2 separate regions of the Homo sapiens genome follow, and region 1 is linked to region 2. The links come from fine-mapping of genetic effects on gene expression. A gene starts in region 2. The other region holds a variant in brackets. All regions are shown on one strand. Distances are from middle to middle. Region 1 overlaps BUB1B-PAK6 (BUB1B-PAK6 readthrough). Region 2 holds the start of PAK6 (p21 (RAC1) activated kinase 6).

Region 1 (5,369 bases), 25 kb before region 2:
CCAGGCAGGACTGTGGCCGGGCCTCCTCAGAGCCATGCTTGGCAGCCTTCATTCCATGCCTATTGGTGCCCGTGGGGGGCGAGGCTCCTGGTGGGGAGCTCTGCAGGCAGGCACCCAGCTGCAGACAGCGCTGCGAGGCACCCTGAAACTCGGCGGGGCCCAGGGACTGTGCCTTTGCAGCCAGCCCATTGGGCAGGACCCGTGGGCTCTGTGGCTCGGGCCACGGCATCTGCTTGTGGCCTGCTGGTGTGCCCCCGTTGCAGCTGAGGTAGAGGCCGTGGGGGTCAGTGCGCTCAGACTGGGGGCTCTGGAGGTACATGTCTGGGTCGGTGGCCCAGTGCTCATCCCCCAGCAGCCCCAGGGACTGTGCCCGCCGCCGGCTGGTGGGGCTGCGGCCACGCAGGGTGTTGGAGCTGATGACTGACAACTTCTGGATGTCGTTGAGCAGCCCCGAGATGTAGCCATCCACAGGCATCGCGCTGCCCCGCACCACTGTCTGTAGGGGGAAGAGAAAAGAGTGTGTGGGAGCTGCCCAATTGTGGCAGGGAGGGGTGGCTGGGAGATCAGGGTCAGAGAATGTCCCTGGGGGCCCTGGGGAGGACCACCTAAGGACCTTCCCTGCTGTGTCATCCACCCATTAATTTTTCCATAATTTATCAGGGCCCACCGTGGGTCCCGCCTGTGCTGGATGCAGGGATGCGGGGAGAAGGCCCAGCGTCAGCAGAGCAGATGGTGAGTGCCATGGGGCTGCATCCAGCATGCCCAGGGGTGTGGTCGGCTGGGCCAGGGAGCTGGAGCTCAGGGGGCGGGGCTCCATTCTCTAGCTCCACGGGTGGCTGGGAGAGATGTGCCCAGCCCTCTGAGGAAGAGACACCAGGCCGGGGGCTCCTCCACACACACTGGCTTCGCAGCCTCCAAACCCTGATAGGGCCCCTGACCCCACCTTCTACCAGGCTCTTGGGTCTACTAGTCGTGACCCTCACAACTAAAATTCTCCTGGTCTGGGAGAGCCCTCAGTCCCTATGGGGCTGCAGGTCCAAATATTGAATGGGACACGTCCTAAAAGACTATTCGTTGTCATCTGAAATACAAATGCAATTGAGCATCTCACATTTTCATGTGCTGAATCTGGCAACCCCACCACCCTGCAGAGAGGGTCTCCCCAGCCTCCTTCGCCCTGGCTTACCCAGGGAGAGAATGGCAGGCTGACAGGCAGGGAGTTAAAACAGCTGATTAACTGATAGCTGTGAAGTAGGTGGTTCCTCCAGGGGCCTTTCTGAGGTTTAGCCAGGCATGGTTGTCTGAGTACTGGGAGAGGCTGAACCTCATCCCTGCCGGCCCCTCTTACCTTCATGGGCTGGAGCTGCACCCGTGTGATTCGCGAAGGGTCCACCACGGGCTTGGGGCGCCGCAGTGTGTCCAGGATGTTCTGCCATTGTGGGGGGAGGCCCACAAACTTGCCTTCTTTGGGGTCGAAGGAGGTGTGGACACGGTGCTGGAAGTTCTGTGGCGCTGAGATCTCAGGGCGTTTCTTCTTTTTCTTGCGGAACATGGTGCCTGTAAGTGCAGAGTAAGGTTGAGCTCCCTCCCGGGAAAGAGGGGTGGCTGCAGCAGGGCCTGGGGCACCAGGTTCAGGGCTCCCTCCCCTCCCCCAGCACAGCTCCCCTAGAAGCCTAGGGCTTCCCTCCACCTCCATCTCTGCTTCCTCAGGGAAATGGCTGGCTCCCAGCAGAACAGTCCCAGAAACAACAAACGTGCCATAAATAAGCCAGTGCAGACTATAAACAAGGAAAAGAGGTGTCTTCTTGCCTGTGCCAAGTCCCCTATGGAGCAGGCAGACTCTGGGGGTGTGTTTTTATAAAATCCAAAGCCCATTACAAGTATCATTCCACTGTCTGTCAACGAATTTTAAAAATGGGGAAAGAGGGAGGAAAGTTAGCAAGCTTGTTTTATGAAACGAGTATGACCTTGATTCTTAAAACCAGATAAGGAGAGTGCAAGAAAAGGAAAATTTGACTCAATATCATTTAGGAACGTAACTATGAAAATCTTAAAACTATCGAATTGAATCCAACAGTATATTAAAGTTATTTTTTTGTTGGCTTTTTTTTTTTATTACAACTCAGCTTTGTCCCAGGATGGTTGAACCTGTTAATATGATACGTTAATAAAAAGCCAACCAGCTGATCACAGACATGCTGCCCGGTGTGGGACTATTATGTATCAGGGAGCCCCCAAAGGGCCTTCATGGTTACCATGTGCTTTACCTCAATTCCAGAAAGGCCCTGAGCCAAGAGGATAGCCTGGGGTGGGTGAGGGGCAGCTAACTTAGGGGTAAAGCTCTCCAGAGAAGGCAGAGAGCACCACCTCCCCTTGACACTCTTCTCTCTGGTATTGGAGCTCTATGTAAAACATCACCTGGGCCGGGCATGGTGGTTCATGCCTGTAATCCTAGTACTCTGGGAGGCCGAGGCGGGTGGATCACCTGAGGTCAGGAGTTTGAGACCAGCTTGGCCAACATGGTGAAAACCTGTCTTGACTAAAAATACAAAGAAATTAGCCGGGCCTGGTGGCACGTGCCTGTAGTCCCGGATACCCATGGGGTTGAGGGAGGAGAATCGCTTGAACCCAGGAGGCTGAGGCTGCAGTGAGCTGAGATTGCCCCACTGCACTCCAGCCTGGGCAACAGAATGAGACTCTGTCTCAAAAAACAAACAATAAAACACTTAACCTGCAATCAAGCCTGTGTCCCGTGCCTTGCTGATTCTGGCTTTGCCTAAGGTCGTGCTGAGCTGCATACACAGAAGTGACACAGGCTTGCAATGGATAGCATGGGTAGATCTGAGAGTGGGGAACTGGGGGCCTGGGAAGGGGAGGGACACTTCCAAAGGGTTGCTCTAGTTTCGCCTTCAGGGGATCCCGGACCTGGGATCACATGTTGATGGCAGACAGGGCCAGGGCTGCCTCTTGAATGCTTTTGGATCTGAAGAGGCTCAGAACAGCTCACTGGGTTCTTATGTATCTGAAAAGGTCACTTCCAGGCTTCAAGAAACTGAAACATGATTCTTGAACTGAAAGCTTGGATTACTCATCCGCCCGAAGATCTGGAGTGCAGGGCCGTCATGT[T/G]CTCTTTTGGCTCTTGCTATGGAAACAGCATTTTCCTAGTCATTTTGGCAGGTTCTGAAGGAGGTCGCAGATCTGGGAGGCAGCTGGCAGAAAGGCAGGGACCCTGGACAGCCAGTGGTTCCCCACTAGGAATTCACCATGCGTGACTCAATCAGAGCCCACGTCACATCTCAATGTCAGCCATGCTTCTGGGTCTTGAGGTTCGGGATCCACCGAACACCCCCTAGAGGTAGAGCCACATGTACAGGACCCTTACAGACCAAGCCCTTTGGAATAAAACAACCTGTGTGAGTTGCAGATGAGTTGTAGGGAGTCTCCCACTAATAATTTGGAGAGATTTTGAACAAATAACTGAAATGATCTGAGCCAGGGGGGTTAATGAAAGACAGCTCATAGGGTTTAGGGTGTGTGAAGTAAGCAGAGTCCCCATACATGACGGTTGTTTCTCTTGTGATGTCACCTCTCTTTGAATCCCTGTCTTGAAGCTCAGGCCCTCCAGACACTGGCACTTGGGCAGATACAAGTCTGGGAGTAACACCAAACCACTTTCTGCTCAGACTTACCAGTCAAAGGGGTCATGCCTGATGTCAGGGGTCTGGGACCTGGGGACCTCGCCATATATACATCATGGTTTGGTAAAATTTGTCCTCCTCCTTTTGGCCTTTGCCTTTTTTGTTGTTGTTTGTTGTTGTTGTTGTTGTTTTTGAGAAGGAGTCTTGCCGCCCTGTCGCCCAGACTGGAGTGTAGTGGCACCATCTGGGCTCACTGCAACCTCCACCTCCCGGGTTCAAGTGATTCTCTTGCCTCAGCCTCCTGAATAGCTGAGATTACAGGCACCCACCAACATACCCGGCTAATTTTTGTATTTTTAGTAGAGACGGGATTTCACCATGTTGGCCAGGCTGGTCTCGAACTTCTGACTTCAAATGATCCACCTGCCTTGGTCTCCCAAAGTGCTGGGATTACAGCCTTTGCCTTTTGCTACAGAAGAGTCTTTATTCAGCAGGTCTATTCCCCCAGTCCCTTGGATAGACCTGCTATCCCTGGATTAGTTGAGCTGCCTGTTTCGCCCTCCTCCCTAGCTCTGTGAAATCTTCTGGAGGTGCAGGGACACAGACTGCAGCTGAAGAAGAGCTGGTGAATCCGCCCCCCACCACCCACCCCAGAACAGCCCTCTCCCCAACTCCCCTGCCCCACCCAAGCGCTCAGCTTTTGCTGTGGGGATGCACAGGGAGAGCATCTTTAGCAAATGGTCTCTGACTCTGGGAGCCTCTCTTGAGTCCATTCTAATAGTGAGCCATTCCGGAACAAGTTCTTCCCAGAGGCAGCAGGGAGGCTGGAGAAGAAAGAAGGACAGCCCAGAGGGTGTCCCAGGGCCAGGAGTGGTGATGGTGAGGGTGGGAGTTGGCAGAAGCAATCAGCTGAGCTCAGGCTTTGGGGGCTAGGGAGTAGAGCTTTAGAAACCAGAGGCCATCACTTAGGTCTGGAAAATCAACCAATCAACCACCTAAAGGGAGGCAGCTAGGACTCATCTGAAATGTGGTGAGGCCAACACTGTGTGGGACAACATAACTGTGTAAGTAGAAAATGCGGGAGAATCTACATAAAACTGGGATTAAGGGAGTGAATTTAGAAGGTCCCTGATTCAAGGTCAATATATATATATATATTTTTTGAGATGGAGTCTCGCTGTCTTGCCCGGGCTGGAGTGCAGTGGTGTGATCTCAGCTCACTGCAATCTCTGCCTCCCGGGTTCAAGTGATTCTCCTGCCTTAGCCTACTGAGTAGCTGGGACTACAGGCGCACGCCATCACGCCCAGCTAATTTTTGTATTTTTAGTAGAGATGGGGTTTCACCATGTTGGCCAGGATGGTCTCGATCTCTTGACTTCATGATCCACCCGCCTCAGCCTCCCAAAGTGCTGGGATTACAGGCATGAGCCACCGTGCCCAGGCTCAAGGTCAATATTTTAAAAAATCAACTGGATTTCTACATACCAGTAACAACATGAAATTTTTAAAAAGGGCCAGGCGCGGTGGCTCACGCCTGTAATCCCAGCACTTTGGGAGGCCGAGGTGGGCGAATCACGAGGTCAGGAGATAGAGATCATCCTGGCTAACACGGTGAAACCCCGTCTCTACTAAAACTACAAAACATTAGCCGGGTGTGGTGGTGGGCACCTGTAGTCCCAGCTACTCAGGAGGCTGAGGCAGGAGAATGGCGTGAACCTGGGAGGCGGAGCT
Region 2 (5,369 bases):
TTTGTCCTCGGGGCACTGGAGAGGCCGTGCAGTCCCCACACTCCCCCTCTCAGGTGCACAGAGCTTCCATCCAAATCAGCTGCTCCCAGAAGGGCTTGCCTCTGGTGCCGACCCTTCCCTGACCAGGCGCTCTGTCACTAGGGCTCCCAGGTGCCACCTCCAAGCCTGGGCCAGGACAACCGCCAGGGAAGCCTGCCTGCAGAGGGGACTCCTTGCTTGCCCCAAAGGCCTCAACCCCAGCTAGATGAGCTCCCGTGGGGCTGAGTCCCAGGCCCACCAGGCCTGGGGGCCACACGGCTCCTAAGCTCATCCTCTCCTCCTGCAGCCCAGTTCCCACCAGAACCAGCCTCAGGAAGACCCCAGGCAGAACGGCACAAACCTCTTGGTGTACAATGCCAGGGAAAGGATAACTGGAGACCACAAGACGTTAGCCTTGCTTCCCGGTGGGGCCCAGTGCTTTATAAACCCGAGCTCACTGGGCCCGATGTCCCCAAAGCTGACCAGGTCATCCACCCTGCAGCAGGGGTGGGGAGACCAAGGCCTGTGAGGAGTGACCGTGCTTGGCCAGGCAGCTCCCTGAACCTGCCCTGATGCTGAGTTTCAGAGTCAGAATCTGTGCCAGGTCAAACCCAGCCAAAGGGTGTGACTTGGAGCCTGGGACCCAGCAGTGCTCCCTAAATATTTGTGGAATGAATACACAAGGGAAATGTCCCAGAGGTGGTAAAGTGAGAGGGGCCTTGGATAGGGGTGTCCCGGTGGCACTGGCTTGGCCCAGCTGGGGCAGGAAGAGTAGAAACAAGCACCTCTCCCTCTAGCTAGGGAGCCAGAGACCAGCTGGGATTGGACTGTTTCACAATCAATCTGGAAAGAAGGTGGCAGGCCGGGTGGGGAGTGGAGCCCCTTGACCCAGGAACCCACAGCTGTGGAGTTAGCCTCCCTGTCCCAGGTGGGAGGCAGCCTGGACACCTTGGCACCCCCGTCCCTAGCCCAGGAATCCGGAGCACGCAGCGGCAGTGGGGACCTTACCGTGGCTGCTCCTTCTGGGCAGCGGGGTCCTGCGTTCTCCACTGCAGGCTGGTGCTTGTCTCTAGCCCAGGAAGCGGCACTCCCTTCAGGCAAAATAGAAAAAAAAAAAAAAAAAAAAAGGAAAAGAAAACCTCAGTGCTTTTCTCACCCAGCCTCTTCTCTTGAAGGCTCCTGGTTGGTATTGTCCTGCCACTGTGGGCACACAGCCTCCCTCCCTCTGGCAGCTTACTCACTGGTGCCCGCAAAGCTGCCAGCTGTGTGGGGGAGAAGGGACCTCCCCCCTCCTCCTGACACACACTGGGGCATGCCCTGTGGGGACCAGGGGCTTGAGGGTGGCACCCGCTGGGTCCTGATCATGGGGAAGCCGTACCCTGGCCAGCACCCTTCTCACTGAATGTGTCCCTGTGAGCTCAGCAGAGACGCACATGGGTGCTGACTGGCCCTGCATAAGAGAGTGACATGGTTCTTGGTAGGAAGCTGTTTCCTTGGTACCCAGGCCTGCCAGAATGAAGGGGCAGCTGATGGGCTGTCCAGCCCCCCAGTGATGGGCTCTCACCCTGGCCAGCCCCTCCGGACGGCTTCCTACCTGGGCATCTTGCTGTGTCTCTGTCCTGTGCACCCAGACAGGGCCTGGGCCTGCCGGGGCTGGCAGCTGCTCCTCACCCTGCTCAGGCCGTGTGTCTGGCGTCCCCTCTCCCTGACGCCCATCTCAGGGCCTGCGCCCACCCAGCATCAGTTAGGATAAACTCCTGTCAAGCCCCCAGCCAGCTCTCTGCTGGACCCAGCTGCTGTCCCCAGCAGGGGGACGGCACACACACTGGCTTACACACTCTCGCACTCACACACACGTGGGTCCACACCCAACACAGAGCCACCTACCTGCCCAGGCCAGCCTAAGCCAATCCAGCCTCGCTCTCCAAATGCCACTCCGACCCCAGAAGCCACTCCTTTACCGAAACATCCCCGTGGGAGATGAGTTCAGAGCCAGCCCGGGAGGACTCCAGTCAGCTCGGACAAGACTGCCCTTCTGTCCCAACACCTCCAGAGGACACACACAGGCAGCCTGACCACCATATCTGCTATTGCACTCTGCCTGCTGCCACAGCCCCCCGGGCACTTCTGGCCCCCACAGCGTCTTCCATATCTTTAGGGGGTGGCAGCAGACTCACAGCAAGTCCCATCTTCCTGGAGCCCAAGGTAGGGAGGGGAGAGCTAGAAGGGGCGGGACTCAGGTGCAGCTCCAAGTTTCCAGCTCCCAAAATAATCAGATGCAAAGGAGAAGCAAGAACAGCTCGAGGCGGGCGGTGACTCAGTGCTAGTGGGCCGGCTTAGTCACCTGGATGGCTGCTGGCGGCTCCTGGCACATCAGGACGGGAGCAGCGCCCTCCCCCACCTGCCTGGACCGTGGCTGTCTCCAGAGTGTGGCCGCCGAGCCCCGCGCCCAGGGCTGCCTGGCAGGCGAGGCCGCTCCACCCCGCTCCCGCCCATCAGGGCCCAGCGGCCCCGGCTGCGGCGCGCCCCTCCTCCACCGCGCGCCCCGGCTCACTTTGGGATTTCTCCATTAAATCCTCAGGCATCGACCTGCTCGTTTGGGGCGCCGAGCTGCTCCAACGTTGCTTGGCAATTTTGATATCGTCGGGGGTTGCCATGGGGAGGAAGGTGATGTCATTGACACAAAAAACCCACTGAATTTACAAATCAGCTGGGGCTGGAGCTATTTATAAAAACACGTTTTTATCTGCCTTTCTTTGCTGAAGGGGAGGAGGAGGAAGGGCTGCCTGCCGGGCTCAGGGTGAGCCTCCCTGCTGTCCTTCCTACCCTTGCCCTAGAGAAGCCAGACCTCCTTGGCTCACCCCCACCCCCACCCCCCAGAACTTGGAGCTGCGCATTCAGATCTGGCAGGTGCTGGTCTCAGCTGGTTTTGCTTCGAAGGCTGAGAGTGGCACATGGGATGTAAGGCAGGGTGGGTGCTGGCTTCCTGGGCTGGCAGGGACCAGAAACCAGTTACTCAACCGGGTCCCTTTATTTCATTGCCCCTGGTCAGAAACAGAGGCATTTGCTGGTGAGGCAGCTTGAGCTCCTTGATGTGCCCCCCTGCCAGCTCCCCGGAGCGCCAGGTGGAGCCCAGCCTTCCACAGTGCCCTCCCCATCCCTAGCCTCAGTGTCTCCTCCACTGGCTTCTTTTCTTCTCCTAGTGTCCAATCGTGGGCTGCCCAAGCTCCAGGCTTGGTCCCCTGCTCATCTCTCCCCACACTCAGCCACCACTCCATCAAAACACCTTTTTTCTGTGGCTTTGACCATCACCTGGGCAAATGCTTGCCCGAAAACCCATTTTGTGCCTGCCCCACTTCAGGCGCCACCTCTGATGGCCCAGCTCCCACTGCCAGGACCCACTAGCTATTGACAGCCAGAGGGAAGCCTGGGAGTTCTTGCCTCTTCCCGTCCCCCAGTCCCTTATATCCAAGGTGGCACTTGGCTCTACATTTTATTTTTGAAAACTTTCTAACTTTCTTCTGTAGCGAAGCCATGTGGTGTTTGGTTAAAAGTCCAGGCTGTGAGTCTTCAGTCTTCCGCATCTCAGCTCCACTGTTCATCAGTTGAGTGACCTTTGGCATGTTATTGAACCAATTGAACTTCAATTTCCTCATCCATAAAATGGGGATGATTTCACCTGCCTCACAGGGCTGTGGAAATTAAAGGAATAAAGTTTCTGGCACAGAGACTGCTCATCTTGATCCCAATAAACATTAGTTTTTATCCACCCCTCCACTGATGGCAGATTAATCTTCCCAAATCATGACCCTAGGCACCTTCTGTGCAAAGGTCTCAAGCTGCATGCGTAGACATTTTGATTGAACGCAGTGTTAGATGTCATGGCATTAAACATAAGAATTTCAATTTGTGGCCAGGCACAGTGGCTCACGCCTGTAATCCCAGCACTTTGAGAGGCTGAGGCGGGTGGACCATGAGGTCAAGAGATTGAGACCAGCCTGGCCAACATGGTGAAACCTCATTCCACTAAAAATACAAAAATTAGCTGGGCGTGGTGGCACATGCCTGTAATCCCAGCTACTTGGGAGGCTGAGGCAGGAGAATTGCTTGAACCCGGGAGGCGGAGGTTGCAGTGAGCCAAGATTGTGCCACTGCACTTCAGCCTGCGCGACAGAGCGAGACTCTGTCTCAAAAGAAAAAAAAAGTTCAATTTGTGGTCAATATGAAACATTTTCCCTTTAACTAGGTTATCAGTTCCTTTTGGAGAGGAACTCTGTATTTTTCTTCTTTTTGTATCTCAATGTAATTTTGTGTGTAAACTTATAAATAATCCACTTCTGCTCTGTCTCACTAAGGAATGATCCAGGAAATGCAAACTAAAACAAAAGGGATATACCACTCCCTGTCATTATACAGTGAAAAAAAAATGGCAGGTGGGAGAGTGAATTGGTACAGTCTTCTTGGAGGGCAATTTTACAGTCTTGACCAAAATTTCAAAATGTGTATGTACTTGATCCAGCAAATGCACTTCTAGGAATCCAAGTTAAGAAATAGTTGCACATCGGCCTGAAGATATTTGTATAAGAATATTCATGGTAGCACTGTTTGTAACTGCAAAGAATTTGAAGCCACCAAAATGTGCATCAATTGGGCAGATTAATTGGGTGACAGATCTATACAGGATGGTACATCCCCATGCAATGAAGTATCTGCAGCCTTAAAATGAATGAGTTTTGTCAGTCGGTATGTATGTACCAGCTATGTGTGTACCGGTATGCATGTACATACGTATGTATGAGGAAGGATGACCACGATAGTTGAGCAAAAAGACCAGGTTTATCAATGTTAACTTGAAAATGAGATGGCATAATCTCATATAAGTTTTTTTATTTAAAGATATTTCTATATCTGTATGTTTAAACCGCAAACTGTCAATGTGGTTATCCTTGGAAATAGGAGTGGTGGTGAGAGGGGTCTTTCACTTTGGACTTTTTACACTCTTGCATTGTTTCAGTGAACATGTACTGTTGTATTTAAACAATACAAAAGTAAAAATAAAGGAATGTATGTTTTTAAAACTAATAATAGGCCAGACGCAGTGGCACACGCCTGTAATCCCAGCACTTTGGGAGGCCGAGGTGGGTGGATCACCTGACGTCAGGAGTTCGAGACCAGCCTGGCCAACATGGCGAAACCCCGTCTCTACTAAGAATACAAAAATTAGCTGGGTGTGGTGGTGGGCACCTGTAATCTCAGCTACTCAGGAGGCTGAGGCGGAGAATTGCTCGAACCCGGGAGGTGGAGATTGCAGTGAGCAGACTGTGCCATTGCATTCCAGCCTGGGCAACAGA

The links. PIP is the estimated chance that this variant, and not a neighbour inherited with it, causes the effect.
Region 1: its variant is the best candidate, but not a certain one, in a credible set for the expression of PAK6 in skeletal muscle (GTEx, PIP 0.73).

What each region holds. Positions count from the first base shown.
Region 1 is chr15:40,260,969-40,266,337 of GRCh38, reverse strand. BUB1B-PAK6 (BUB1B-PAK6 readthrough) reads right to left here. Exons shown (of 10, transcript NM_001128629.3): 3 at 1,349-1,557; 4 at 1-496. The coding sequence starts at 1,552. PAK6 (p21 (RAC1) activated kinase 6) reads right to left here. Exons shown (of 11, transcript NM_001395430.1): 4 at 1,349-1,557; 5 at 1-496. The coding sequence starts at 1,552. Among named protein-coding and RNA genes, the nearest start is that of PAK6-AS1, 11 kb to the right of the region's middle. The variant T/G (reference allele first, on the strand shown) is at 3,127.
Region 2 is chr15:40,236,339-40,241,707 of GRCh38, reverse strand. PAK6 (p21 (RAC1) activated kinase 6) reads right to left here and starts at 2,645. Exons shown (of 11, transcript NM_001395430.1): 1 at 1,906-2,645; 2 at 1,027-1,109. All of the region lies in intron 1 of BUB1B-PAK6 (BUB1B-PAK6 readthrough), which reads right to left. LOC107984763 (a long non-coding RNA gene) reads left to right here and starts at 2,007. Exons shown (of 3, transcript XR_001751506.2): 1 at 2,007-2,223.